Linked DNA regions of Homo sapiens. The protein of the gene in region 1 purifies or fractionates together with the protein of each later gene. This does not show direct contact. Each region holds a gene or a part of one and is shown on either strand. Other genes may lie near its edges.

Region 1 (7,027 bases):
TGTATAATAAAAGTTGGTGATTTGAGTTGTTTCCCATGTGCTAGATTGCATTCACAGAGTGGATTGAACCACCTAAACGAGAAAGAAAAGCCAACTATGCCGTTGATGCATATTTCAGGGAAGCTCTTCGTGTTAGTGAACCTAAAGCACCCAAGGTGAGTTGACTGACACAGCATAAAAATATCTAAAAATTTTGAAAATGTAATTTTTTTCATATATTCTTGCAAAAAGATTGATAATTAGATTTTGTGTTTCTTTTTTTTTTTTTTTTTTGAGACAGAGTCTCACTCTGTTACCAGGAGTTCAGTGGTGCGATCTCAGCTCACTGCAACCTCCGCCTCCCGGGTTCAAGCAATTCTCCTGCCTCACCCTTCCGAGTAGCTGGGACTACAGGCACCCACCACCACCCCTGGCTAATTTTTGTAATTTTAGTAGTGATGGGGTTTCACCATGTTGGCCAGGATGGTCTTGATCTCTTGACCTCATGATCCGCCCACCTTGGTCTCCCAAAGTATTGGGATTACAGGCGTGAGCCACTGCCTCTTTCCTACATTTTGCATTTCTTTAGAGTGTACTCTCTTCTGTTTTTAGTTAACATTTTTCAAAAATTAATTTTGAATCTGTGCATTTAAAATTAAGATATAAATTCAGTTTTATTGAAAGATGCATTCAGTTGCTTGCAGAATTGGCTGTTGTGGTTTATGAAGTGAGGACTAAGGATACATTTAAAATGAAATTTCTTTTTTATGGATAACACTTATTTTTGTTTTTCTTTAGGCTCCTCGACCTCCAAAACAACCCAATGTTCAGGATTTCCAGTTCTTTCCTCCACGTTTATTTGAATTACTGGAAAAAGAAATTCTGTTTTACAGAAAAACTATTGGGTACAAGGTAATTGAAATTATCTGCCTTTCTGTTCATTCCTATCCAGAAATTATGGAAGGTATAAACATTAGTTATAAATATTTATCTAATTTGGACCTAGTGTGAAACAATACTGCTTTAGCCTAGTCTAGTTGTATGTATGAAATACATAAACTTGGGTCTGTTTTTCTTTAACAAGAAAAAATAAGACTTCATGACCAATCTGGTTTGTTTTTAACATAATACATGCAATGTATCAGTATATTTTCTTTCCTGGTTGAATTGAAACTTGTGAAATGTCAGTTAGTTGGTTCATCACATGCTCTTTAAAATTTACTGATTTGATGGCATAGAAAAATATCTTTTAGGTACCTCGAAATCCTGAGCTGCCTAATGCAGCACAGGCACAAAAAGAAGAACAGCTTAAAATTGATGAAGCTGAATCCCTTAATGATGAAGAGTTAGAGGAAAAAGAGAAGCTTCTAACACAGGTATAGCCTTTAATCAGTACAAACTTTAGTAACAGTTTGTTGTAAAGGACTGTGTTAGGTTATGTTGGGGCATAAAAATAAATACAAGTTTCTGCTTTTAAAGATGGAATAATTGGAGACAATAAAGTATGGGCATGTGGATAAATGCTCCATCTGATTGTCACTAGTTGAGGTAGTTGAGAAGACTACAGATTTTATTACTCTGGCTCGGTAGAGTGGGTATCTTTTTTATCACCTTACTTTGAATGTTCCCGTCTTTCCTATGAATTTTCCACATTGCTACCCAGTCACCATTTTCAACTATAAATCTTGGCTTGGTTATTTTTTAAACATCCTTTGGTGTTCATCAAGGTCTTTCAGAATCTGGCCTTTGACTTACCTTTAAAGCTTCATTTTCCTTCCATTTTTCTACTTGCTCATATTTTTGCCCTTTATGTTATTCACTCTTTCTGGCCAACTGCTAGTAATCCTTCAAAGCTCAGTGAAACTGTCACCTTTTCATACAGTATTCCTTACTCTCAGCCACTCATATTTAATTGCTTGGGTATTTGAGCAATATATAATGTGTTGTCAAAAGTGTATATTTATGTACACGAAAAGTTACCACTCTAAAAGAACTTAATAAACTAGTGAAAATTTGTTTTTGTAATATTTAGAAGGTTTGCTAATAGCATGTTTTCCAAGTTTAATGTGCTGTGATTAAATATTTTGTTTCTGTTCCTGTGAAGGGATTTACCAATTGGAATAAGAGAGATTTTAACCAGTTTATCAAAGCTAATGAGAAGTGGGGTCGTGATGATATTGAAAATATAGCAAGAGAAGTAGAAGGCAAAACTCCAGAAGAAGTCATTGAATATTCAGGTAATTCTTTTAAGCAGGCTGTTGGAGTTTAGTAAGAGCTGTTGGAAGGTTCTTGTTTTCTTATTCTGAATTATGTTGTGATTAGCTAATTTTGTCACAGTGTAGTTAGTACCTTCTTCATTATTTTTTACAAATTAGAAAATGTTCTGTTTCCAGAAATGGCGTAATGGTTTCCTTTTTAAAAATTTTTTAACCCTAGCTAACTCTAGCGACAGCAAAGAAAATCAGAATAAGTCACTGGATAATTGCCCTTGCATTTTTATCTTAATTTCTCTGCATAACTTCAAGTATTATGTGTTGTGTTTCCTGAAGTCAGTTGTATTATTAGGTTAACATGTGAGGGTATGCTGTGGTGAGTCTGCTTAGAATAGCAGAAATTTAAGAATTAGAAGATAAATAATCCAGTTGATCCCATTTTTTTTACATTAAAGAAATAAAAATATAAATGATTTGTTTACTTTGTCCAACTTTTACAGCTGTGTTTTGGGAAAGGTGCAACGAGCTCCAGGACATAGAGAAGATTATGGCTCAGATTGAAAGGGGAGAGGCGAGAATTCAAAGAAGAATAAGCATCAAGAAAGCACTTGACACAAAGGTAATTTGCTTGTTAATAAGTTAGGTAGTTAATAAAATAACTCCTAGCTGTGAGTATGAGAGAGTGACTTTTTATAAAGGAAAAGAAGTAAGGGTTTACAATTTAAAATTTCTTCAGAGTAGCATTCAAACATGGTATTGTCAGCAGAATTTACCTATACACTAGACTGATAGATCTGAGTCAAAGACACTAAGATTAGCTTTTTACTAAGTAGAATCAGGAAGTCTTAGTCTGTATTTCTCTTTATAATAATAAAGACTATAAAGGTCTTTCGGGACAAAGATTATATAAAGCAATTGAAGTGCTCTAGATAGAAAATTCTGATTTGAAATGCAACATTTTAGCTAATTATACTAAAGCTGAGTTTGAAATACAGATTATATAGGATTTGTATTTTATATAATATAAAATCTGACTTTCATAGATTGGACGGTACAAAGCACCTTTTCATCAGCTGAGAATATCATATGGTACTAACAAAGGAAAAAACTATACTGAAGAAGAAGATCGTTTTCTGATTTGTATGCTTCACAAACTTGGATTTGACAAAGAAAATGTTTATGATGAATTGCGACAGTGTATTCGCAACTCTCCTCAGTTCAGATTTGACTGGTTTCTTAAGTCCAGAACTGCAATGGTGAGTGCTCAGGGCTTTTTTGTGTAATGTAGCAGAGTTCAGAGTAAGTGTCATCTTTGGTATTCTTTAAGGTGACTTTAAAAAAATCTATGAAGTAGACTTTTGTTACAATATTGTTAGTATCATAAAACCTAATACCAGGGATAGCTTACAAGTTTATTGGTCCTATCCTTTAGTATCTTACGTCTTTAAATATCACTATATGATAAGACTAGCTTTTCAAGTTCTAAGTGGGAGGAAGTATCAGTTTCAACTTCTGAGTGTTACGACTTTTTGGTTTTTCAAATGAACATATTTCTATAAAGAAAAATGGTCCTTGCATTCAAGCATCTGCACATCAGAATCAGCATTCTGATTTATTTAATATAAATCATCCAGAGTCTGGATTATTTTAAGATGGCTTATTATAGTGAAACACTACTTTTGCACTGATTTAGTGCTAGGTTTTGTTTTTATTCCCAATATCTGACTAACAGTTTCTGACCAAATAGCCCCATTTCTAATAACCTAAAATTTGAATTCAGAAAAGTTTAACTTTGATGGATTGCTCCTTTTCTTCCTTATTTCACCACCATTGAACTTTGAGCTTCAACTTGTTTTCTGCCAGATGAGGATAATGCTAATAAGTTCTTTAGTCTTAAGTTTGGGATATTCTGGGATAAGCAAAGTTTAAACATCTTTGTGTTTGTTTATAGTAAGATTTCTCTGTATATTTAAAGTAAAATGTCACTTTGTAAGACAGTGGATAGTAAGCAGTATTTTCATGTTTGACCACTGAAAATTTTTTTTCACTAGACATCACTGTTTGTGATACCCAAGTTTGGGAAATGTACTAAACTTAAATACATGAAGATACTTTGAAGATAAAACACTGTATAAATATATAATTAGAGAAAAGATCCAGTTGCTGAAAGCTTATTTCTTCTTAAGTGGGAACAATTTATAGAGTTAATAAAGAATAATTTTATAGTGATTGTAACAAGACAGTGCCATGTTAATTTAACTAGTACAGTACCGTAATTTAAAACTGTGTTACTTCTTAACATGTTCCATGTTAAGATGCACAAAAAATGATAATGTATTCTTCTATCTCTATATACTATTTCTAAGTCTTGTGTGGTGTATTCTATACAGTAGTATTTTAAAATTATTTTACTGTAGTTGTGTGTGTAGTAGTATCACTTACTATAAGAAAAAAATAATTTTGCTCTATAAGAAAGGGGGCTGCTACCCAGCAGCCGTCCGTGCAGATGGACTTCTGTTTCTTTCAGGGTTAACTGCTACTTCTATGTTATACTTTAAATCTTTTCTGGAGGCTGTATGTCCAGTTTGCCAGAGAGAGATGAGGTAGAACTCATCGTAGACTTCCATGGCTGGTTTTCCAAAATTGGGAAAGGTGCCATGTGATTGATTGACTACCATAATTCTAGTGATACTTTGAAGGGAAAGATTATACACACCTGTTAAAGTTCTTGTTGTTTTTGACCCTCACATATGTGCACTATTAATCTTTTTAAGTTTTGGATATAAGTAGCACAGTAGTTCTCAGACATACACACTAAGTAGCAGTATTGCATATGTTCATTTTTATTGCTTTAATTCCTAAGTGAAGGAAGAATTTTTGAAGAATACACAGTAGTTTGGCTTTAAAGATTGGAGTAAAAACATTATTTACAAATATCTTGCCTTTAATCTTCATAGCATGAATTGTATATGAAAATCAGTTGTTTTTTTTTTAAATCAGGGGTGTATTAGTGGTTTTATATATTATCCTATTAAAACATACCTTGTTTTAAAATTGAAATCATGAAACTTGTGGATGGAAAGTGCGTGTACCATGTTTGTTTATAATTTAGGAGCTCCAGAGGAGATGTAATACCTTAATTACTTTGATTGAAAGAGAAAACATGGAACTAGAAGAAAAGGAGAAGGCAGAGAAAAAGAAACGAGGACCAAAGCCTTCAGTAAGTATTCATGAATATGTAAATATGTGGATTATGTAAATTTCCCCTTTCTAAGTATTTAACACTGCTTGGCTGTCATTGATGTGTTAGTCCCTGTTGTGCACCCCTCCATTGCCTTTACTTTTTTTTTTTTTTTTTTTTCCTTAAGGGAGAACCCAAGCTCATAATTTGAGATTCTTCCACTTTCAAATTTAGGTAGTGGTATAATTTTTAATTTTTAGTTGTTATGAGTAAGTATGTATTTATAGGTTACATGAGATACTTTGATACAGGCATGCAATAAGTAATAAGGACATCAGGGTAAATGGGGTATTTATCACCTCCAGCATTTATCCCTGTTACAAACAGTTTAACTCTTAGTTATTTTAAAATGTATAATTAAATTATTTATTGCGGTAGTCACTGTGTTGGGCTATCAAATACTGGGTCTTAGTCTCTCTTTGTATTTATTTGTATCCATTAGCCAGCCCCACTTTCCCCCACCCCCACTGCCTTTCTCAGCCTCTGGTATCCATCCTTCTCTCTGTCTCCATGAGTTTAATTGTAGTTTTTAGCTCCCACAAATAAGTGAGAACATGCCAAGTTTGTCTTTCTGTGTCTGGCTTATTTCACTTAATAAACTCCAGTTCCATCCATGTTGCTGCAAATTACAGGGTCTCATTGCTTATGGTTGAATAGTATTCTATTGTGTATACATACCATGTTTTCTTTATCCATTTATCTGTTGATGGACACTTAGGTTGCTTCCAAATCATGGCTACTGTGAATAGTGCTGCAGTAAACATGGGAGTGCACATATCTCTTTGATATACTGACTTTCTTTTGGGTGTAAACCTAGGAGTAGGGTAACTCTTATCTGTAGTTTTTTGAGGAACCTTCAAACTGCTTCCACAGTGATTGTACTAATTTGCGTTCCCACCAAAAGTGTATGAGGGTTTCCTTTTCTCCACATTCTTGTCAGGATTTGTTATTGCCTGACTTTTGGATAAAAGCCATTTTATCTGGGATGAGATGTTATCTCATTGTAGTTTTGATTGCATTTCTCTGATGATCAGTGATACTGAACAGCTTTTAATATGCTTGTTTGCCATTTGTATGTCTTCCTTTGAGAATCATCTGTTCAGATCTTTTGCCTATTTTTAAATCGGACTGTTAGGATTTTTTTCAGTAGAGTTGTTTGAGCTCTTACATATTCTGGTTATTTATTAATCCTTTGACAAATGGGTAGTTTGCAAATATTTTCTTCCATTCTGTGGGATGTCTCTTCACTTTGCTGTTTCCTCTGCTGTGCAGAAGCTTTTTAACTTAATGTGATCCCATTTGTCCATTTTTGCTTTGGTTGCCTGTGGGGTATTATTCAAGAAATCTTTGCCCAGTCCAGTGTTCTGGAGAGTTTTCCCAATGTTTTCTTGTAGTTTCACAGTTTGAGGACTTAAAGTCTTTAATACATTTTGATTTGATTTTTTTATATAGTTAGGGATACAGGTCAAGTTTCATTCTTCTGTGTATGGATATCCAATTTTCCCATTACCATTTATTGAAGAGACTGTCCTTTCTCCAGTGTATGTTCTTGGTAGCTTTGTCAAAAATGAGTTCCATGTAGATGTATGGACTT
Region 2 (7,026 bases), on another chromosome or scaffold:
CCCCTTTCTTTTATAGAAGGACTAATGTCCTATTGCAACTTTGTGGTATCCCAGGAACTATCACAATACTGAATGATCACATGACCCCATCCCAGCCAATTGGAGTTCTTCTCTTGGATTTTGTGCGCGCGCGCGCGCGCGTGTGTGTGTGTGTATGTGTGTTGCTGATGTGGGAACATGCTCTTTCCTCTCTGGTCAGGAGACTATAAAGATGTAAGCCTGGGCTACCTGTGGCCATGATTCCAGGCCCCTAGGGACTGCCAGCCTGAGAGAACAGAGTTAAGAGGGAAGGATTTGAATCCCCGGACCCAGCTGTCCAGAGGGCCTGCTTCTCTCTGGCTCTGAGTAGTTTTTGTTTTGTTTTGTTTTTTACATGAGTTACATATTTTCTACTGGTCTCTTTATTTTTTTAATTTTGCAATTTAGGGCATACACACAGACTGAGAATCTGTGGTATGTCCCTCTGCCTGTCTCTTAAGGTAGTTTTAATTAGGTCCTGTCACTTCTAGCAAAAGGCCCTGGCCTAATGTATGTACCCAGGATGGCATCCTCCCATCAGACCGAAGACAAAGACGCTGCTCAAAACACATCTGGAAAGAGAAGAGCACAGAAAAGTGGCCTGAAGAAAGAGATGTCCAAACCAAGCACAATTTGACAGGCCCCACCTGTTGCTGCCAGGCACCAGGCAGTTTTCCTTAGATCAGGTGGACCAGAGAACTGCCCCACACTTAGGGAGTGCCCCCTCTTCACATATGCTAGATGCTATCCTCACTTGCCATGGGAAAAGGCATTCTTATTCACAAACCCCACCATGACTAGGCCTGCCCAGAGGGTCCTCTTTTCTGTCTTTCCAAGTTTCAAAAATGCAAGAGAACTATGAAAGATAGTCAGCAAAGAATACTTTTCCAGCAAGGTACAGAGGAAGCACTTGAATACATTCAAGGAACTATGATCTCCTGGCTCCCACCACCAACCCACTTCTGGCTGAGCTAGCTCCGGTGTGCACCTCAACAGAGAAGCCTCCCTGATTACTGTTTTAAAGAACAAGCTGTTCCTACCCACATCCCCTGCTGGTACTCTCGTAGCCAACCTGGCATTATTTTCTCCACCTCTGATTATCACTGAATGTAGTATTCATATCTTAATTTTGTGTCCCCCAACCCAACCGGAATGTAAGCTCCTGGGGGCCAAGGACTCTCAATTCTGTTCACTGTTCTATTCCCAACACTTAAGACAGTACCTGCCACATGCTGTGTTTTCAATAAATATCTGTTTAATAAATGGAAGTGCAATGATCCAAGACTGGGAGCAAGTTAATAGCATTTTGTGATTGAGTGAGTAGGCTGAGGAGAGATCTGACTTCAGGTCTCCAGGAGCTTAAAATGAGCAAGAACTTGATATGCTCCATCTTCAGGTGGACTAAAAGAAGAAATGGGACCAATAGGACTCATAAGGCTTTTAGGTCCAAGCTAGTGGTAGAGTGTGGGGACAGCTACTGTTTTTGCCTACCTAACATGCACTCACCCTTCTGACAGCAACCCTTGATTTTCTTTGTGTCTACCCCAACCTAATTTTGGAGGTAAGCAGATGACCTAATTTAACCAATCAGCAGCAGCAGCAGACTCCACACCTTTACTCATAGTGATTGCTTTTTGTCTGGACACATGATCTAATTCAGGCAATAAGAATCAATCCCATGACTTTTGCCAAAGCAAAAGGGAAAAAGAAACTCCTTCCAGGGCCAGGCATGGTGGCTCACATCTGTAATCCCAGCACTCTGGGAGGCCAAGGCAGGAGGATTGCTTGAGTCCAGGAGCTTGAGACCAGCCTGGGCAACATGGTAAAAAAAAAACAACAAAAAAAACCCATCTCTACAAAAAATACAAAAAGTACCTGGGCATGGTGGCATGCACCTGTGGTCCCAGCTACTTGGGGGGCTGAGGTGGGAGGATTGCTTGAACTCAGGGGGTCGAAGCTGCAGTGAGCTGTGATCGTGCCACTGCACTCCAGCCTGGGTGACAGAGAAAGACCCTGTCTCAAAACAAACAAACAAAACCTCCCTCCACAGGGACACTGCTAGCAGGAAAGATGATGAAGCTTGGAGCTGCTGGAGTCATCACCTGAATCTGAGAATAAAGCTAACAGAGGAGAGCACCACAGACACGTCAAAGGACCAGCTTGAGTTACCTCCCTGGAAGTGACCATGTCTGCAGGTACTGGAAATTTCAATCATGTGAGCCAATAAATTCCCCTCTTCTGGGGAAACACATGGAAATGGGTTTCTGTCACAACTGAAATCATCCTGACCAATGGATTTAGGGCTCTGAAGAACAAAAAGGAAATACATCATTAGGGCTCTTAAATGCCTCAAAGGGAAGCCTAACGTCAGGCAGGGTGTCCCAGAAATGCAATCTAACACCTTTTGGTGAAACTCATTGCCTGTCTTTTTGGTGAGTAGGATGGGAGCTGCGGAGAAAAAGGCCATGCTACTTTTATTAAGTATTTGCAGTTACATTTTGCAAATGATTTCAGCAACTTTATCTCAGGTGTTTTAACATCTCAGCATCTCACAGTTGTAAGAAACAGAATCAATCTTCTACTCAGTGCAGAGGGGGAGAGAGCATGATATAGCAAAAAGAGCACTGAACCAGAGTCTAACAATCTGGCTTTTCATCTTTATCTGATCACTGATTAGAGTGTGGTCTCAGACAAATCACCTTGCTTTTATTGGTCTCATGACTACCTCGTCTTCAAGCACTCACCCAACTCTGCAATGGAAAATACACTAGGACAGAGGTTCTTAATTTTTTATGGGGCCTGGGCCCTAGGAAAACACACACTGCACACATGATTTTACGTTGCATGGGGTTCACAACTCTAGAAGCCAATCTACATCTCTAACTTCTCTGCTTTACAGTAACACCAGCTTCTGCTTGAGCGCTCCTCCAGTGGGAGGGAGCTCACTACTCACAAGGAAGCCCATTGTACTACTGAACTGTACTAGAAAAATAAGTTATTCTTCATATATATATATATTTTTTGAGATGGAGTCTCACTCTGTCCCCCAGGCTGGAGTGCAGTGGCGCAATCTCGGCTCACTGCAATCTCCGCCTCCCGGGTTCAAGCGATTCTCCTGCCTCAGCCTCCTAAGTAGCTGGGATTACAGGCACGCGCCACCACGCCTGGCTAATTTTTTGTATTTTTAGTAGAGACGGGGTTTCACCACATTGGTCAGGCTGGTCTCGAACTCCTGACCTCAGGTGATCCACCCACCTCAGCCTCCCAAAGTGCTGGGATTACAGGCGTGAGCCACCGCCCCTGGCGTTCTTCTTCATATCAAACCAAGTTCTATACACTGTAATTTCTACTCATTGGTCGAAGTTCTCAATGGCAAATCAGAAAAATTGTGTTCTCGCCTGTATATGACATCTCTTCCTCTCTCTCTCTGAAGACTGTTTCTAACTAAAAAATGTAGATGATTCGCCATGCAAATTATTTTACTGTACATTGTTACAAAGATAAGTTCTTCACCTCACCCCTAATATGCCAAATGTTCAAATGTAGATGCTGAAGTCCAAATAAGCACACTGCTATTAATCTGCATAGATCTAGGTGTTGCAAAGAGGAGAACTGCTGTATAACAATATCTTGAAAGAAACAGCATAGTATTTTGGGGAAAGCACTGCATTCAGAATCAGAAGACTTGGAGTAATACTCGGTCTCACATTCCAACTACCTGTGTATCCTTGGGCACGTCACTTAACTTCTCTCAGCCTGGTTCTCTTCTGCAAAATGCGACAGGAATACAGTGAGGATTAAGTGAAATAATGTTTGTAAGCTTCTAGGGCAAGGCTGGGACATAGCAAATTCTCAATAAATAAGTGCCAGCTCCCGCGCTCAGCAGGCTCCGAGTTTTATTCGATGCGCTCGGCGCTCTTGGTCGAGCGGGATTCCCCCTCCGGAGCCCGAGTCTGCGCTCTGGGCTCGACTGAGGCTCCCTGGCCGCTCGCGCTTTTCTCTCCTTCTCCAAGATGGCGGCGATCGGCGGCGTTGAGGCGGGATCCGGGCGAGCCGAGTGAAGGTAGCGGCGAGCGGAGACCCCAGGAGACCGGGCTGGGCCCCCACCCTGAGGCGGCAGCAGCCCCGCCCCGTCGCCACCCGCCGCCCTGGGCCCGCGACATCACCTCTGGGGTGCCCCAGGCCCTTCGCGGCCTAGCCCAGGGGCCGAGCCGGGGACTGGAGTAGCGGCCGCAGCCGCCCCCAGGAAGGGGCTGGAGCGGGCAGAAGGAGGAGGGCGGGCGGGAGCTGTTCAAACGGGGAAGGCGGGAAAGCTGCGGGGCCGGGAGGGGGCGTGCGGCCGCCCCGGGGGCCTGCGGACCCGGGCCGCCCCTCCCCCTGCCCGGGCCGTCTCCGCCCTCGGGGGCGCCGTGAGGCCGCCGGAGACGCGGGAACCCGGGTTCAGGTCGAGCTGTGCGGCTCGGAACCCGCGATGCGGGGGTCCCTCGGGCTGTCAGGGGGAAAGGGCTCGTGGCCGCGGCCACGGGAGGGCTGGGGCTGCGGCTGGCAGGAGAAAGTACGAGGAGCTTTCTTCTTTTCCTCTTCACAGAGCTTTGTTGAGCTAGCTGTTGCCGCAAAACTGCCGGGAGAATCCCACTGGTTTGCCTTGGGGACCACAAAAATGGTGGTCCTGGGGGCTGTTTGTGTAAATCACCTGGTATTTTGTGTGTTTCTTGCGTGCAACCCGGCTTGGCCGTGCCTTCGTGGTGGGCGCCTTCTCCATGCAGGCCCATTTTCCCTCCACCAACTACTACTTGTAGATTCACTTTATAGCGTGCAAAAGCGGAGAAACATCTCTGTCCCCTCTTTTGGAGGGCTAAGCTGGTGGCTGATTATATTTCCTCCTAATAGAACAAAGTAAAAAACTGAATCCCAAATAAAGCCTGTTGATTGGACAAGGCTTCTCAAAATTCGATTGCTGGTCTTATGGAATGTGTGTTGTCAGCCAATCTGTGCGGTGGTCGTGGTTCCGCTTAATTGCACTGCAATGAGAGGATTCAATCCCCATCCCCGACTGTCGGGATCTCTGCAGCTTCCAGAGCTGGCAGGGGCTGGGAGTGCTGCCTAGGTAGGTCCCTGGAGAAGGGAGTGGCAAGAGGATTCGGAGTCACCGTGTTCGGAGATTGGAAGAAACCTGGACGAAGTTGAGAAGGCATCACTTGTCTGTATCGTAGAAGTAACAAGAAAATTTCAGAAATTGGCAACCGGCGGATGTGCATCTTCCTTTACCTGCACTGACTGGCATTTTGAGTTCTTGAAAGGAGTGGTTGGAAGAAGAGAATGCAGAATCTTGGACATGGCTCTCATCCTGGAACAGACCTGGAGTTCAGAATTTCTCTTACTGTCCGTGTGACGGGGCTTACTTTGTTTCCTTTTTTTCGATACTCATTTACATTATGGGGTGAAGAAGGTTGTTGATTGCAGGAGCTCAAGTTACCTCAAAAAAAGTCTGAAACCTGTTTTTTAACTGTAATTTGAAGTTTCAAAATGACAAAGTGCTATATCTGAGGACTTTTTCCTCCTGATTACTTTGGTCATCCCAAAGGCCTATGCCTGAACATAACTTGTATGCTTATCTACCAGGGAAAGAGCAACTCTGCCCCCTCCTTTTTCATATCCTGAAGAAAAGTCCCCGAAGAGCTATTTAACAATTTGTGCATTTCATAAGTATACATTTTTATGGTACCAGTTTTTTACTTGTATCAACAGTATGAAATAGTGAACTTTTACTTATGTTGTCATATCTTAGCACACTGAGACAAACAAAATTATTCTTGCCTCTTGGAGTTGACAACATTGAATTTTATAAACTCCCAAATTATTGAATTGAGACTGGGTTTTAACACCTGTTTCACATTTGCCAACATTTAATGTAATTATGACCTCCCTTTTCTAATGTGAAAATCAAACCTAATATTCATTTTCATTAATCCTCACAATCTACTCTCTACCCCTGAACTCTGAATTTTCACAGATTGTATTCAAGACCTGGAAGGAATATCAGGGGTTCATCTGATCTTATATAAATGTTGCCTGAACTCTGCCTTTCTTTCACACTGTTGCTTGAGATTTATCTGGTATCTTTCCAAAACTAAACCCTGAGCTGCAATAATATCCTGATTTTAAAGAACGTAGAAATTCAGGGCCCATCGGTCTGCCCAAGCTGTGGCTGATACAGTCCGTTGTGTTTAATTTTAGTTTTTCAAGCTCTTGGCTGCCCCAGTTCTTCAGTGAATTGGACGTGTCTTCAGGCCTCATTCCTTCTTTTTTCTTCAGGTTATTTAATCCAGTAATTTATAAAATGCTCTTCAGTGTTTTTAAGAAAATTTAAACAGTGGTAGACCTAATATATGTAATGCCAACACCACATTTTCTTGGTTGGCCTGTGCCTCTGAGAAGCAGTTCCTAATTTTCTATTCCCTCTCACAACTTTTTAATCCACTAGTTTTTTAAAGCAGCCAGTAACGAGACCACGATACAGTCATCTTTCTTTCTTTCTGTCTTCAGAGGTACTTATTTCTATTCTGTTAGGTTGCCCAACTCTGTTTTATGTTGATTTTGATGTTACCAAAGGGAAGGCCTGTTATAAGTCTCAGGACCAGCCTTTGCTTACATATACAAGTGCATTTTGTTGTTGACAAAACACTGATGACTGTATTTATGACATTGAATATTTAAGTTTTTTGCCATTATTTCTGAAATATTCTTTGCCAAAATTCATGCACAGAAAGTGTTTAATTTGAGGTCTCCATTGGTTCTTGGCATTATCAGCCTATGAAAATCTATATAATCTATATATTTTTCTTATAAACTCAGTATTTTAGTGCCATTGAGAGGATATGCTGTTTTCAAATAAATTGATATAATTCCCTGTATTTCCCTTCTACCTGCACCCCTTTTGGAGTCAGCACCACTTGGGTGGAAAGGGGAGGACAGTAGTTTCCGCTGAGAAAGTGTCATCCTTAAATG
Region 3 (7,027 bases), on another chromosome or scaffold:
TGCAGTCTCCGCCCCTAACACGGTTTCCTCAACACCTGGGCAGAAAAGCTTAACTTCAGCAACGTCCACTTCAAATATACAGTCTTCAGCCTCACAACCCCCTCGCCCCCAACAAGGACAAGTGAAGCTCACCATGGCTCAACTTACTCAGTTAACACAGGGCCACGTAAGTAACATAAGCTTTATTTTAACTTTAGAGGTGATCTTATTTATTCTTGCGGTAAGTTTAAAAACATGAACTTATTTTGATACGTTTTTAAATGTGCTGATTTGAAGAAATGGTTGCTTCCTGGAGTCAAGCAGAAATACCTCTTAGACAGGATATAATAAACCCCAACTACTAGAGTAATCTTTAGACAGTGAGCTAAAACAGTGAGACAGATAACCCTTTTAAACACCAAAATTTTATTAGTTGGCTAATCTCCATGAGACAAATAAAATTTGAGTACATTAAGCTGCTTCCTTGCAAGACTCGATATTGTTAGCAAGTCTTCTAATATTGATTAATAAATTGAATGCAGCTCCCATCAAAATCCCAAGAGGTTTTGTTTTTAGTGAAACTTCACAAGCTGATACTGAAAGTTTATATGGAGGTACAAAGTATTAAGAATATCTGTACCTTTGAAGAACAGGATTATTTGCCCTATATATGATAACTTGATATCAAAACTTAGTATAGGCTGGGCATGGTGGCTTGCGCCTGTAATCCCAGCACTTTGGGAGGCCAGGGCGGGTGGATTGCTTGAGGTCAGGAGTCTGAGACCAGCCTGACCAACATGGTGAAATTCCATCTCTGCTAAAAGTACAAACAAATTAGCTGGGCGTGGTGGCATGCGCTTGTAATCACAGCTACTCAGGAGGCTGAGGAAGGAGAATTGCTTGAACCTGGGAGGCGGAGGTTGTAGTGAGCTGAGATTGCACCACTGCATTCCAGCCTGGGTGACAAAGCAAGACTTCATCTAAAAAAAACCAAAAAACTTAGTATATAATACTTCACTAATTAATATAGTGAGGTACAGACATAAGGAGAGGCAGATAGACCAACAGAACAGTAGAGAGTGCAGAACATGAACCCCATGTATGTGGACACTTGTTATATGACAAAGGTGACATTGCAGATCATTGAGGAAGAGATGACTTTTCAGTAAATGGTGCCAGGACAATTGAATATACATGGGAAACTGTGAAATTGGACCATTATTACCTCACTCTACATAAACTCAATTCCAGGAGGATGAAAGTCCTAACTGTGAAAGGTAAAACTATAATACCTTTAGAAGATAGAAGAATATCTTCATAGCTTTCCTAAACAGATAGAAAATGCTAACCATAAATGAAAAGATTTATAAATTCAACTACTTTAAAAATAAGAGTAAGAACCTCTGTTCATCAAACTCACTACAGAGAGAGTGAAGAAAATGAGAAAAGAACCAACCAAGGACTATTACATATCCAGAATATATAAAGAATTACTACAAATCAAGAAAGAAAAAAATCCAGATAGATCAATAGGAAAAAAGACAAACAGGCAAGGTGCGGTGGCTCACACCTGTAATCCCAGCACTTTGGGGGGCCAAGGTTTTGGGAGGCCAAGCCAGGTGGATCACTTGAGGTCAGGAGTTTCAGACCAGCCTGGCCAACATGGGGAAACCCCGTTTCTACTAAAAATACAAAAATTAGTCAGGCGTGGTGGTGTACGCCTGTAATCCCAGCTGCTTGGGAGGCTGAGGCAGGAGAATTGCTTGAACCCAAGAAGCAGAGGTTGCAGCGAGCCAAGATATACCACTGCACTCCAACCTAGGCAACAGACTCCGTCTCAAAAAAAAGAAAAACAAAAAAAAAAGGACAAACCAACATTATGAGGAAAGAAGAAATCTAAATGTCCCAAATTCCAAAAAACTGCTGAACTTTATTAATAATGAGAGAAGTACATATTAAAACCATATGCTTAAGAGATTGGTACAAATTTAAATGTCCAACAAAACCAAGAGTTAGCAAAGACATAGAGCAGAAAGAATTCTCATGCACAGCTGGTGGGCCTATCAGTCGGTTCAGCCATTTTGGAAACTTCCTGGACATGGTCTGGTAAAGTCAAAGCTGTGTATGCCCAAGGTCCCAGTATACCTTCTAGGTATATCCCTAGAGAAGTTGTTGGCCATGTGAGCACCAGAATACATGGCATAAATATTGGTAGCAGCATTGTTCATAAGAATCAAAAACTAAGAACAACTCAGGTGTCTATCAAAATCAGTTAGCTAAGTAAATTGTAGTATATTCCTACAGCAATAAAAATGAATAGACTTCAGCCACACAGAACTATGCAGATGATTCTCACAAATATATAATGGTAAGCTAAAGAAGCAAGTAGCTGCCAAAAAAAATACATGTTATAATTTCATTTGTATAAGATTCAGAAATAGGCAAAACTAAGCTATTTTGTGTAGGGATACAGGGCTGCTGCATTGCCTGCCTGGAGGGGGCACTATTCCCATTGTATTCTTTGTGAATATTGCTCCTGAGTTTGTGAACCTCAGTGGCCTTATATATACCTAAGATACATACCGAAGTAGTAATGAAATACAGTGTTATCATCAAAGTGAGGATAGTGCTTACCTCTAGGGGAGAGGGAGGGAATTGAAATCCGGGTGAGTCATATGGGGACTTCTAGGACACTGGCAATGGTGACCACAGTGGCGGTTTTATAGATGTTTACTTTATAATTTTTAAATTATACTTGGTGTTTTGTGCATTTTGTGCATAAAAAATGTATTTTAGAAAAGCAAGAGTAAATAAGTTTTGAGGGATTCACATGTATATGGAGCTTACTTAGTACATGGACTTTGCGCCATCAGTTTTGGTCATTGGGAGTTTAGGGGATGGTTTTTACTTTTGCTTTCCAGTTCTCCAGCATGTTCCTGGTATTCAGGGTTTCTAGTTGAATTACAGTTCTGGACAGAAGAGAGAGCGCCTAGAGAATTTTAAATTTCTGGACCCCTTTTTGGTAACTGCTCAGACCTTAGTGATCCTCCTTACTTGGTGTTTGCATTACATATCTAAAACCCTAAGCTTTTTACAGTTTAGCACACACACACCCCATAGGTAATTTGGCACGTATTGAAAGACAAAATTCAGGAGATCTAGGTTCCTTCTTTTATCTCACCTTTAAGTTGGCCAGGGTACTTGACCTTTCTAACCTGAGTTTCTTAGTTGGGAATCAGAAGAATATTTTCTCTGCCTACCCCATAAAGTCACAAGTCCATTGTGAGAATCAAATGAGGCAGTATCTATGAAGATGCTTTTGAAATTGTAAAATATGAATATAAGATTATTTAAAATCAGAATTTTGTGGGGACTTTAGTTATTCAATACCTTTATTTTATAGATTGGGAAACTTGGATCTGGAGGAACAGTGTTGCTTGTGGACAGATAACTGGCTGACCATTGGGGGAGCTTGAACTGGAACTCTGGATTGTTGATGTTTTTCCTACTAAGCAACATAAATATTCTTACTTTAGCTTATCTAAATTCCTGCTGGTGACATTCAAATATGTATTTTCATTATATTAAAAGATAATTACACATAAAAATGATTTAATAAAAATGATATACATACAGATTGATGCTTTGAACACTGTTTACATGTTGTGTTTTTTCCACAGGGTGGCAATCAAGGTTTGACAGTAGTAATTCAAGGACAAGGTCAAACTACTGGACAGTTGCAGTTGATACCTCAAGGGGTGACTGTACTCCCAGGCCCAGGCCAGCAGCTAATGCAAGCTGCAATGCCAAATGGTACTGTTCAGCGATTCCTCTTTACCCCATTGGCAACAACAGCCACCACAGCCAGCACCACCACCACCACTGTTTCCACGACAGCAGCAGGTAGAGCTGTGGGTTTATCGGAAATGTCGGATGTTACTACTACACGTGGCTGGGCTAACAGAGGCCAACAGGAGAACCAGTATTTACCTTTGGAAGGATATGCCTCAAGCCAGTGACCTCAACAGTTGACATAGTCAGCCTCACAACGTCTCGAAGCTTTTGTACCCTATTCTTACAGACTCCCTGTTACCACCACCCTCTCCCTCCTATTAAAAAAGAGAGAGAGAGAAAGGGGGCAAAAATAATGGTTATCTTGGTAACTATGCCCACACTTACTCCTTGCTAAGCCTTGTAGGTGCTGATTCAGTCATGGAGGTGATCTCAGGGAGGGTGGGTAAATCCAGTTCATGACCTCAGATTGAGAGTGGGTCCAGAACCACTTTGTTGACCTTCTGCTGCAAGTCATTGTAACTAACTACCACCACATCATGGGAGAAAAGTGAAGCGTGGCAATTAGCCTGGGCCAGATGACCCAGCTGATTTCCAGAGGCTGCAACTTACTTTGGAAACCAGCCCTCTAGAGTTAGGAGAGTGTACAGGGGACAGCCAAGAAGCAGGGCCCAGGCTTCCCAGTTTCAGAGCGTCCTGCCCTAAGCGTGTCCAAATGGAGCATTTCAAAGGCATAGACCTTCTGTACCAAAATACAAAATTCTCAACTTTATTTACTTTATTTATTTTTTCGAGACAGGGTCTTGCTCTGTCGCCCAGGCTGAAGCGAAGTAGCACCATTACTGCTTACTGTAGCCTTGAACTCCTGGACGCAAGCAATCCTCCCACCTCAGCCTCCCACGTAGCTTGGACCATAGCCATGCTCCACTATGCTCAGATAATTTTTTATTTTTTTTGTTTTTGTGTAGAGACGGGGTCTCACTATGTTGCTCAAACGATCCTCCCACCTCAACGTCCCAAGGTGCACAGGTGTGAGCCACCACGCCTGGCCAGAATTCTCAACTTCAGAAGATTTCCTTCAGATTCTTCTTTAACCACAGTTTTATGTTCCAGAGTAATAGAAATGGTTCATCTTTCCTTTTTACAGGTACAGGTGAACAAAGGCAGAGTAAACTGTCACCCCAGATGCAGGTACATCAAGACAAAACCCTGCCACCAGCTCAGTCATCAAGTGTGGGTCCAGCAGAAGCCCAGCCACAGACTGCTCAGCCTTCAGCTCAGCCCCAGCCCCAAACCCAGCCCCAGTCCCCAGCTCAGCCTGAAGTTCAGACTCAGCCTGAAGTTCAGACCCAAACAACTGTTTCATCCCATGTCCCTTCTGAAGCACAACCCACCCACGCACAGTCATCCAAGCCCCAAGTTGCAGCACAGTCTCAGCCTCAAAGTAATGTCCAAGGACAGTCTCCTGTTCGTGTCCAAAGTCCATCACAGACTCGAATACGTCCATCAACTCCATCCCAACTGTCTCCTGGACAACAATCCCAGGTTCAGACTACAACCTCACAACCGATTCCAATTCAACCACATACATCTCTTCAGATACCTTCCCAAGGCCAGCCACAGTCACAACCCCAGGTACAGTCTTCAACTCAAACTCTTTCATCAGGACAAACTTTAAATCAAGTTACTGTTTCATCCCCATCCCGTCCTCAGCTACAAATACAGCAGCCACAGCCCCAAGTCATTGCTGTGCCTCAGCTGCAACAACAAGTCCAGGTTCTCTCTCAGATCCAGTCACAGGTTGTGGCTCAGATACAGGCTCAGCAAAGTGGTGTGCCCCAGCAAATCAAACTCCAGTTACCTATCCAAATTCAGCAAAGCAGTGCTGTGCAGACTCACCAGATTCAGAATGTGGTTACAGTGCAGGCAGCCAGTGTGCAAGAGCAGTTGCAAAGGGTTCAGCAACTCAGGGATCAGCAGCAAAAGAAGAAACAGCAACAGATAGAAATTAAGCGTGAACACACCCTCCAAGCTTCTAATCAAAGTGAAATCATTCAGAAACAGGTAAAGTTATTAAGTAAAAGCAGCATGTTCAGTAGCTTGAATTATTGTGCTGTGCAGTAGAATTAGTGTTTGGTTGTGTTAGGTTTCCTAAATGAGACAAAGTCATTAATGTTTAAATTTAGAAGAAACACTGAATTGACCAAAAAAAATACTGAATGACTACTGTGGTGTGGAACACTTCGTTAGATACATATAATATATAGTCAGTGCTTATTAGGAATGACCTGTATTTTGGGAGGACTAAGATGGGAAGAATGGAGTTATGAGCTTTAATCTTTAATATAAAACTTGAGGGTTTAACTAAGTTTTAAAGCCACTTCAGACATTATAGCAATTCCTTTAAAGTTATTGAAAGTTGTCATTCCTTAGTTTGCATGTAGACTATGCAAATTATAGACAGATTAAACTCATTTGCATTTCTAGCCACACCTTTGTAAAAAAGTTTTTGAAAACATATTATTTCATAGCTTAAGTAAAAAGTGGCATCATCCAGCAACATCTTGCAATGGCACATTAGTGAAATAAAGCAATTTAGATGAGTTAGAATTAGTCTACTAAAGTGAAGTCACACATATAACATCTGATAACATTACTGGCAGAAACCATCTTTTCATCTACCTATAGCTTGCTTCGCTCAGCACTAGGCAGGAGTTTGAATGTGGATTTTAAGTGTTACCAAGTTGTGAGACCTTCATTCAGTTCCTAGGTCTCCCATTCACAGTCCGTGAAACTCACTTATCCCTCCTTAGCTATAGCCTCTTAAAACCCTTCTCTTTCCAGCCACATGAGATTATTGCAATGATTAAATGAGGTCATAAATGTAGAAGCACTTTTTACACAGCGAAGTTATTTTAAAGATGTAGTATTCTTATGAAAATGACGGTCATATATATTATATTTAAATGTATTATTACCCAGCTTTACTGTGTATCTATAAACTGAGAATTACTACACTGTCTGTCTATCCGCTAATCTTTGTATAGGGGAGACGAGGGACAGTTCTTTAAAATTCATTCCTGGGAAGAAAGCATAATGTTAAAAATACGGCCTTTGGAGAAGGATAGCCAGGTTAAAATTTCAGCTGTATTACTTACTGTTTGTCAAACAAGGTGGTTAATTTCTTTATGTCTCAGTATCTTGTTTATAAAATTATTGCTATGGTTCAGTGTTGTTGTAAGGAATAAACGAGGTA
Region 4 (7,027 bases), on another chromosome or scaffold:
TAAGTAACATCACGGATTTAAGGCAACACTGGCAATCTTAGGGACTATTTTTCCTTTAAAAAGGGTCTGTGTATTACTAAAGTTTGAAGACACTACATAAATAATGTTACAAACGTAGCATGATTTGCTAAATTCCCACTTTCCAAGGGGCACTGAGTAGTTTCCAATTTGGAACTATAAATAATGCTTGTTATAAACATCAAAGTGTTTGCATAAAGCTTTGCCAGCATTTTGGATGATCTCCTCAGGTACTACTGAGTTACAGAGTATAAATGCATTGTGAAGCTTCTTGAAGGATGGTGCCACATTACATAAGAATACTCGTCTCCTGGCCAGGCACGGTGGCTCATGCTTGTAATCCCAGCACTTTGGGAGGCCGAGGCAGGTGGATCATGAGGTCAGGAGTTCGAGACCAGCCTGGCCAATATGGTGAAACCCCGTCTCTACTAAAAATACAAAAATTAGCTGGGCGTGGTGGCAGGCACCTGTAGTCCCAGCTGCTTGGGAGGCTGAGGCAGGAGAATGGCATGAACCCGGGAGGCGGAGGTTGCAGTGAGCTAAGATAGTGCCACTGCACTCCAGCCTGGGCAACAGAGCAAGACTCCATCTCAAAAAAAGAAAAAAAGAATACTGGTCTCCTATACCATGGCTGGTATTGAGCATTGTGTCTTCTGTTTTTACATTTTCCACGATGTGTTACAAAATACATTGTATCTAATTGTTGCTTTAATTTGCATTTCTTTAGTAAGACTAAATTATTTGTATGTGTTTAGGGACTATTTGAAAGTCTTCTTGAACTGTTTGTGACATTTATCCATTTTTCCCGTTTAGGTCTTGGTATTTTTCTTATTGATTTAGATGAGAAATTTCTAAGTTGTGGACATTATCCTTCTGTCTGTCGTATTTCTTCCCATTTTTCCTCCCAGTTATTAGTCTGTCTTTTAATTCTTTCCTTCCTTACCTTTTTGAGCTTTTCTATCTCATTTTCATCTTTTTTCACTGTCTGCTCCCACATGTGTACTTTATCTTGGTCCTCCTTCAGTTGGTTCTTTTCAAAATCCAACTGAATGCCCAAGCGAGTCTTCTGATTCTCAAACTCCAAACTGTGTATAAAGGTGGGGGGAGAATCACTCATAATCTCATCAGCCAGAGATAACCAATGTACAAAATCCAACTATGGGAAGAAAGGGAAACTAGACCCAGGGCTCAGGGACCCAGAGTTACTGATTTTCAGTCACAACTTGCTTCATCCATCCATATGCACATAAAACGGTCCCCTGAAGCTGAAGAACTAAGTTCCTCAGCCTAGCCCTGTGGACATGGCATAAGGCAGGGAAGATTCGGCCAAACCTTATTTATCCCCCTTTAAACAATGAAGACCCCAGCGCCCTCCAAGTTCCTACAAGGAGGCATAAAAGAGTCCATCTGATTCTACCAGCTATGGTAATTCCTATTAGGCTTCTATGTACTTTACATACATTATCTCTAATCCTCTAATCAACAGCTCTGCAAGTAGGCATTATTATCCTAATTTTACAAATGAGGAAAACTTAGGCCAAGAGGTAAAAGACCTTGCCCAAGGCCACACAGCTAGTAAATGGCACATGTGAGACTGAAACCCAGATTTAACACCAAAACCCGGGCTCTTTCTAGTATACCACCACTGCAACATAATGTAGTGGATTAAGAAGACTGGCATCTCAACTCTGCCACTTACTAGTAATGTCATTCAGGCAAGTTGGTTATACTCTCCAGACCTGTTTCCCCATCTGCAAAATGAACATAATAATAGTACCTACCTCAGGGTTATTGGGAGATTTTTAAATGAGTTAATATGTATAAAGTCCTTAGAACCACACCGAGTCCACGATAACTACTCAATCAATTTTAGTTACCATTATCACCAGGTATATTGACTGTACTCAGCTTACTTTTGTCCAAGGGCTTCAACTACAGCATCCCAACTTCTGCCCCAAGGTCCCAGAACCTCTTAAAGGGCAGAACTTGGATAGTACAAAAACATGGAGAAAATACTGGATTCCTGCTATTGTCCTCCTCTCCATCTCTTCAGAAACTCAAGAGTATGCAACCAGCATACACAGGCACTGGCAGGCCAGGCAGGACTAACTTCCAATTGCCCTCTCCAACTCCCAATATGGTGTGACAGATGTTGCCAGATGTCATGCTAGCAGCTTAAACCTATTAGCCACTATAATCCAAATGAAATATAACTAACTCTATAATTTTGAGCTATGCAATTTTATATCCAATCTCCTAAGTATGACTCACAAAGGCCTCTGTGATCCGGCCCCTGCTGACCTCTCCACCACTCCCCACCTTCTTCCTGACCCTGCTTTTATGCTCCAGACATTAAAAACTACTTAGTATCCAGAACAAGGCATGCTCTCTCACACTTCCAAGCATGCTGTTCTCTCTGCTTGGAATTCACTTTTTCTGTCGCTGCCTGGCTGGCTAAATCCTACTCACTCTTCAGGTCTCCAGTCATCACTCCCTGTTTTGTAAAACCTTTCCTGACGGTTCTGAGCAGGTTCCTAGTTTCTATTACACTTTGTTGGGTTCCTCCCTTTTTAGACTTTAGGTGCAGAAGCAAGTTAATCATATCCCACAGTTCATAACACACTTATCACCACTGCCTGGGCAAGACCCTTCCCTTGTCCTCTTTGTTTCAATCCCCAATTTCCATTCCCATTACCTTCCCTACTGTGAACATGCACCACAAAGTGACATACACACATGCATTCCTTAAAAATGCATATCCTTGTAAAATGTCTTAGTTCTAAAATTTACACAAATCTACTGTGTTATAAATTTTATTCTTTTTTCTGGTCAATACCAGGTTTATAAGTTATCCATTACTGCCCACAAATCTAGTTCTTGCTGTGAACTCCCACACAGTATTCCAGTCTATATATTCATTTGACTTATGCTCCCCCAGTAATGGCCATCTACATTGCCACCAATGTCCCACTACTACAAGTTATGCCAAGATGAATGACACTGAATGTGTATCTCTTTGGGACCCTATGGCAAGACTCTCTCAGGGATATATACCCATAGGTTTTATATATGTGTATATATATACATTATATATATACACATATATTTTTTTCACATACTACACAGGACATCTATAGATTTCCACCTAATACTGTCAGACTTTTAAATTTGCATTTCTCTGATTAAGAGGTTAGACCTCAATTCCTATGGTCATTAGCCACTTGAACTTCTCTTTCCATGAAAGCCTATCTATATTATTTGCCACTTTTTTTTTTTTTACTTTTTTCATTGCATTGGGTATCATAAGTACTTAGCCACATTTCCATTGGGTTTCTTGTCATTGTTTTTTATTTTTCCTGTTGTTGATTTGCAGTTCCTTGAAAATTTCTTCAGTATTTTGTATCTACCTTAATTACACCATTGATCACACTGTCCTCAAATTGATGTTTCCCCCAGTACTCTATATGTTTCCTGAGGAAAGAAATACAGTCTGATTCAATTCTATATCCCTTGAGACTGGCTTGAAGTAGGACAGCAATGAATATTTACTGTATGGGCAAAGGGCTAAACTGCTAACTGAAGCCCAGGGTACAAGGGATGACCTCCTTCAGCAAAGACTGTGTTGTGTTCATCTGTCTTACCTCCATCTCCCTTGTCCCCCTTCCAATACCTAGCACAAGACAACCTGGCACAAGGTAGGTACTCAACAAAGGTTTGTTGAATGAATGAATCAACTAAAGTGAGGAAAAATGAGAAGATTATTTTCTTCTGACTATTGTTTCAACCAAGAATTTCATCTCCCGCCTCCCTCCACCTCACGTTGCCCATTATGATAATAACAACAAAAGCTACTATTTCTTGCTCTTAGTAGATGATATGTAAGCTGCTAAATACCTTTTAAAAAGGTTAAAAAAAAAAAAAAGCCAGGCGGGGGTTGGGGCCAGGCGTGGTGGCTCATCCTGTAATCCCAGCACTTTGGGAGGCCAAGGCGGGTGGATCACGAGGTCAGGAGTTCGAGATCAGTCTGGCCAGCATGGTGAAACCCCATCTCTACTAATAAGAAAAATTAGCCGGGCATGGTGGCGTGCACTTATAGTCCCAGCTACTCAGGAGGCTAAGGCAGGAGAATTGCATGAACACGGGAGCCCGGAAGGTGGAGAATGCAGTGAGCCGAGATCATGCCACTGCACTCCAGCCTGGGCGACAGAGCAAGACTCTGTCTCAAAAAAAAAAAAAAAAAGGGCCGGCAATATGGCTCACACCTATAATCCTAGCACTTTGGGAGGCTGAGGCAGGAGGATCACTTGAGCCCAGGAGATCAAGACGAGCCTGGGCAATGTGGCAAAACCCCATCTCTACAATAACAACAACAACAAAAAACAAAAAAAGAAAAATTAGCCGGGCGTGGTGGCAAACATCTGTAGTCCTAGCTACTCAGGAGGCTGAGGTGGGAGGACCACCTGAGCCTGGGAAGGTCAAGATTGACACTGCACTCCAGTCTCGGAAACAGAGTGAGATCCTGTGTCAAAAAAAAAAAAAAAAAAAAAAAAAGGTAAAACAGGTAATCTTAAAAAAAAAAAATTATTTCACCTAATCCTCCCAACAATGCCATGAGATAGGTATCATTATACCATTTTGCAGATATTGCAGCTTACAGAAGTCAAGTCACTGCCAAAGATAACGAGTTGTGGAGCTGGGGTTGTAATCCAGGAATCCAGAAAATCAAGTTTAGAGTTGGCACTCTTAACCACTATAACTATGCCATACTGCCCTCCTGATTTCTGTTCTTTAAGGCCTAGCTACATAAACTCACATAGTTCTAAGAGCTGACCCTTGCCTATGACAGCATCTGGTTTTCCAAGGATGTCAAGCTAGAGGCTCAAGGGCATGCCAATCTCTTCTACCAATCCTCCCACCTACCGCTTCTTGGCGATTTCATTCTGCCGTTTCACCTTTTCTTCCTCAAACTCCCGGATGTTGCGCACACCAATCTCCCGACAAAACTCTTCAAACACCTCATCCTCTACCTGAGAAGAGAAGCCAGGGAGGGCATCGGCCCTTTTAGTCTGTCCTGCTTCCAGTCCCAGTCCTGCCCTGACACACACGCTGGCATGGCCCACACCCTACCAACCTGGTTCATCTTCTCCTTCAAGTCTTTCATTTCCCTCTCTCGGCTCTGAATGATCCTCTTGATATCATTAATGCGAGGCCCAAAGTTGGCTAGCTCACTCTCCAGCTTGGATTTTTCCTACAGGCAATGGGTTGAGAGGACAAAGCAGACCAGGCTCCTTGGAGAAAAAGCTACCTTGACTGCATTGGCCCCACAGTCAGGAAGGGCTAGCTCTCCACAACTGAGAGAACCTGGCTTAGCACTACTGCCCTAGTCAAGCCTCCATGATGTTGCACTGAAGCCATCACATGGCTTCTTCCCTGGCATCCAGTTCAGCCAGCTTCAATCCACAGGGCTGGGGACACAGTAAACATCATTAGGTATAGGTCCCAGTCTTTGATCTACAACCCCTGGGGGCAGAGTTGTTTCAGAATTCAGTTTAGATTTTTTGAGTTTAGAAAAAGATATATAAATACACACACTACATATAAAACCTCTAGGGCGGTCTGGGGAAGTAGTCAGTAAAAAAAACAAAACACATTAATATACCTAGAACAGTCCCCCCCCGCCCCGCCCACTACCACAAGCAGGGACTGAAATGCCCATAGCTCACTTTCAAAAATTCAAATTTGTTGAATGAATAAATTATGCTAACAATAGCACATAACATAAACTGAACACATGGTAGTCTTAAGCACTTTACATGTTAACTCATTCAATAATGACCCTATAAAGTAGGTATCATTTATTTATTTTGAGACAGAGTCTCGCTCTGTCACCCAGGCTGGAGTACAATGGCATGATCTCGGCTCACTGCAACCTCCACCTCCCGGGTTCAAGCAATTCTCCTGCCTCAGCCTCCCAAGTAGCTGGGATTACAGGCGCCTGCCACCACGCCCAGCTAATTTTTTGTATTTGTAGTAGAGACAGGTTTGGCCAGGCTGGTCTCCAACTCCTGACCTCAGGTGATCCACAGGTGATCCACCGTGCCCGGCCGAGTAGGTATCATCTTAACTCGCATTTCACAGATAAAGATGTGAAGGTTGACACTGAAAGGTGAAAATACTTGCCTAATGTCAAACTCAAGGCAGAGCCAAGCTCTGAACCCCTGGCTGTCTGACTCTATGCTATACCTGACTCCCTGCGGCAGGCTGGGAGGAGACGGGGAAGTGAAACAAGTTCCCCACCCCCAGAGAAACCTAGGCCAGGAATGTGTGGATGGCCTTTGGAGAACAGGGCTGAAGGCCAGGCCCCACCTGCAGATTCAGGGCTAGATGTCGTGTCTTGGTCTGTTCTAGGTCACTCTGGGAGTACTTGAGCCGCATCTGCAGTCCATGGGCCTGAGACTGCACCTGACGCAGCTCTGCCTCTTTCCGTTTTGCCTTCATCTGCTCCTGAAGGGAACAAGAAAGAAGGGCTAGGTGGTAAGGTGGTGGCTGACCTAGGCTTAGGACTCCCACTGCTAAAAACAGCACTGCCTGTGGCTTACTTTCAGCTCCTCTGTCAAGCGCTCCTTCTTCTCTTTCAACTTGTCTACTGCTTTCTCATCCCAGCGCCGTGCCTTGGCCTTCAGGTCACTGGCCCCACCAGAGATCACTCCTGACTTCTGGAATAGGGTTCCATCCAGTGCCACTGTCTACACACAGCAGGGGGAAGAGAGAAGAGGGGGAGAAGCTGAACAAATGAATCTCCAGTACTGAGCCTGTCCAGCTCCAGCCTGGGCAAGGGAATCCACACCTTGTGGCGCTGGTGGCCTCCAAAGGCAATGCGGCGGGCATCTTCCACGTTGTCACAGACAAGGGCATTGCCACAAGCATACTGCAGGGCCTTTTTGATATGAGGTGGCTCATAGCGAATCACATCAATCACTAGCTTGGCCCCCTTCAGCTCCCGGAGTTT

Evidence for each region.
Region 2: the proteins of SMARCA5 (region 1) and HMGXB4 purify together in Homo sapiens (affinity purification with mass spectrometry; 3 studies listed by BioGRID and IntAct, with this or other methods). This does not show direct contact.
Region 3: the proteins of SMARCA5 (region 1) and BPTF purify together in Homo sapiens (affinity purification with mass spectrometry; 4 studies listed by BioGRID and IntAct, with this or other methods). This does not show direct contact.
Region 4: the proteins of SMARCA5 (region 1) and SMC1A purify together in Homo sapiens (co-purification; 2 studies listed by BioGRID, with this or other methods). This does not show direct contact.

Annotation. Positions count from the first base shown.
Region 1 is NC_000004.12:143,544,693-143,551,719, forward strand, and holds part of SMARCA5 (SWI/SNF-related matrix-associated actin-dependent regulator of chromatin subfamily A member 5), read left to right. Parts: intron 1-44; coding exon 45-155; intron 156-777; coding exon 778-891; intron 892-1,232; coding exon 1,233-1,355; intron 1,356-2,083; coding exon 2,084-2,216; intron 2,217-2,692; coding exon 2,693-2,811; intron 2,812-3,235; coding exon 3,236-3,448; intron 3,449-5,304; coding exon 5,305-5,412; intron 5,413-7,027. UniProt on the Homo sapiens protein: ATPase that possesses intrinsic ATP-dependent nucleosome-remodeling activity.
Region 2 is NC_000022.11:35,253,477-35,260,502, forward strand, and holds the start of HMGXB4 (HMG domain-containing protein 4), read left to right. Parts: upstream 1-4,016; 5' UTR 4,017-4,081; intron 4,082-4,711; exon of another isoform or gene 4,712-7,026. UniProt on the Homo sapiens protein: Negatively regulates Wnt/beta-catenin signaling during development.
Region 3 is NC_000017.11:67,940,491-67,947,517, forward strand, and holds part of BPTF (nucleosome-remodeling factor subunit BPTF), read left to right. Parts: coding exon 1-166; intron 167-3,659; coding exon 3,660-3,882; coding exon of another isoform or gene 3,883-3,994; intron 3,995-4,918; coding exon 4,919-5,835; intron 5,836-7,027. UniProt on the Homo sapiens protein: Regulatory subunit of the ATP-dependent NURF-1 and NURF-5 ISWI chromatin remodeling complexes, which form ordered nucleosome arrays on chromatin and facilitate access to DNA during DNA-templated processes such as DNA replication, transcription, and repair.
Region 4 is NC_000023.11:53,398,628-53,405,654, forward strand, and holds part of SMC1A (structural maintenance of chromosomes protein 1A), read right to left. Parts: coding exon 6,866-7,027; intron 6,765-6,865; coding exon 6,618-6,764; intron 6,523-6,617; coding exon 6,385-6,522; intron 5,267-6,384; coding exon 5,150-5,266; intron 5,046-5,149; coding exon 4,939-5,045; intron 1,104-4,938; coding exon 962-1,103; intron 1-961. UniProt on the Homo sapiens protein: Involved in chromosome cohesion during cell cycle and in DNA repair. Central component of cohesin complex. The cohesin complex is required for the cohesion of sister chromatids after DNA replication.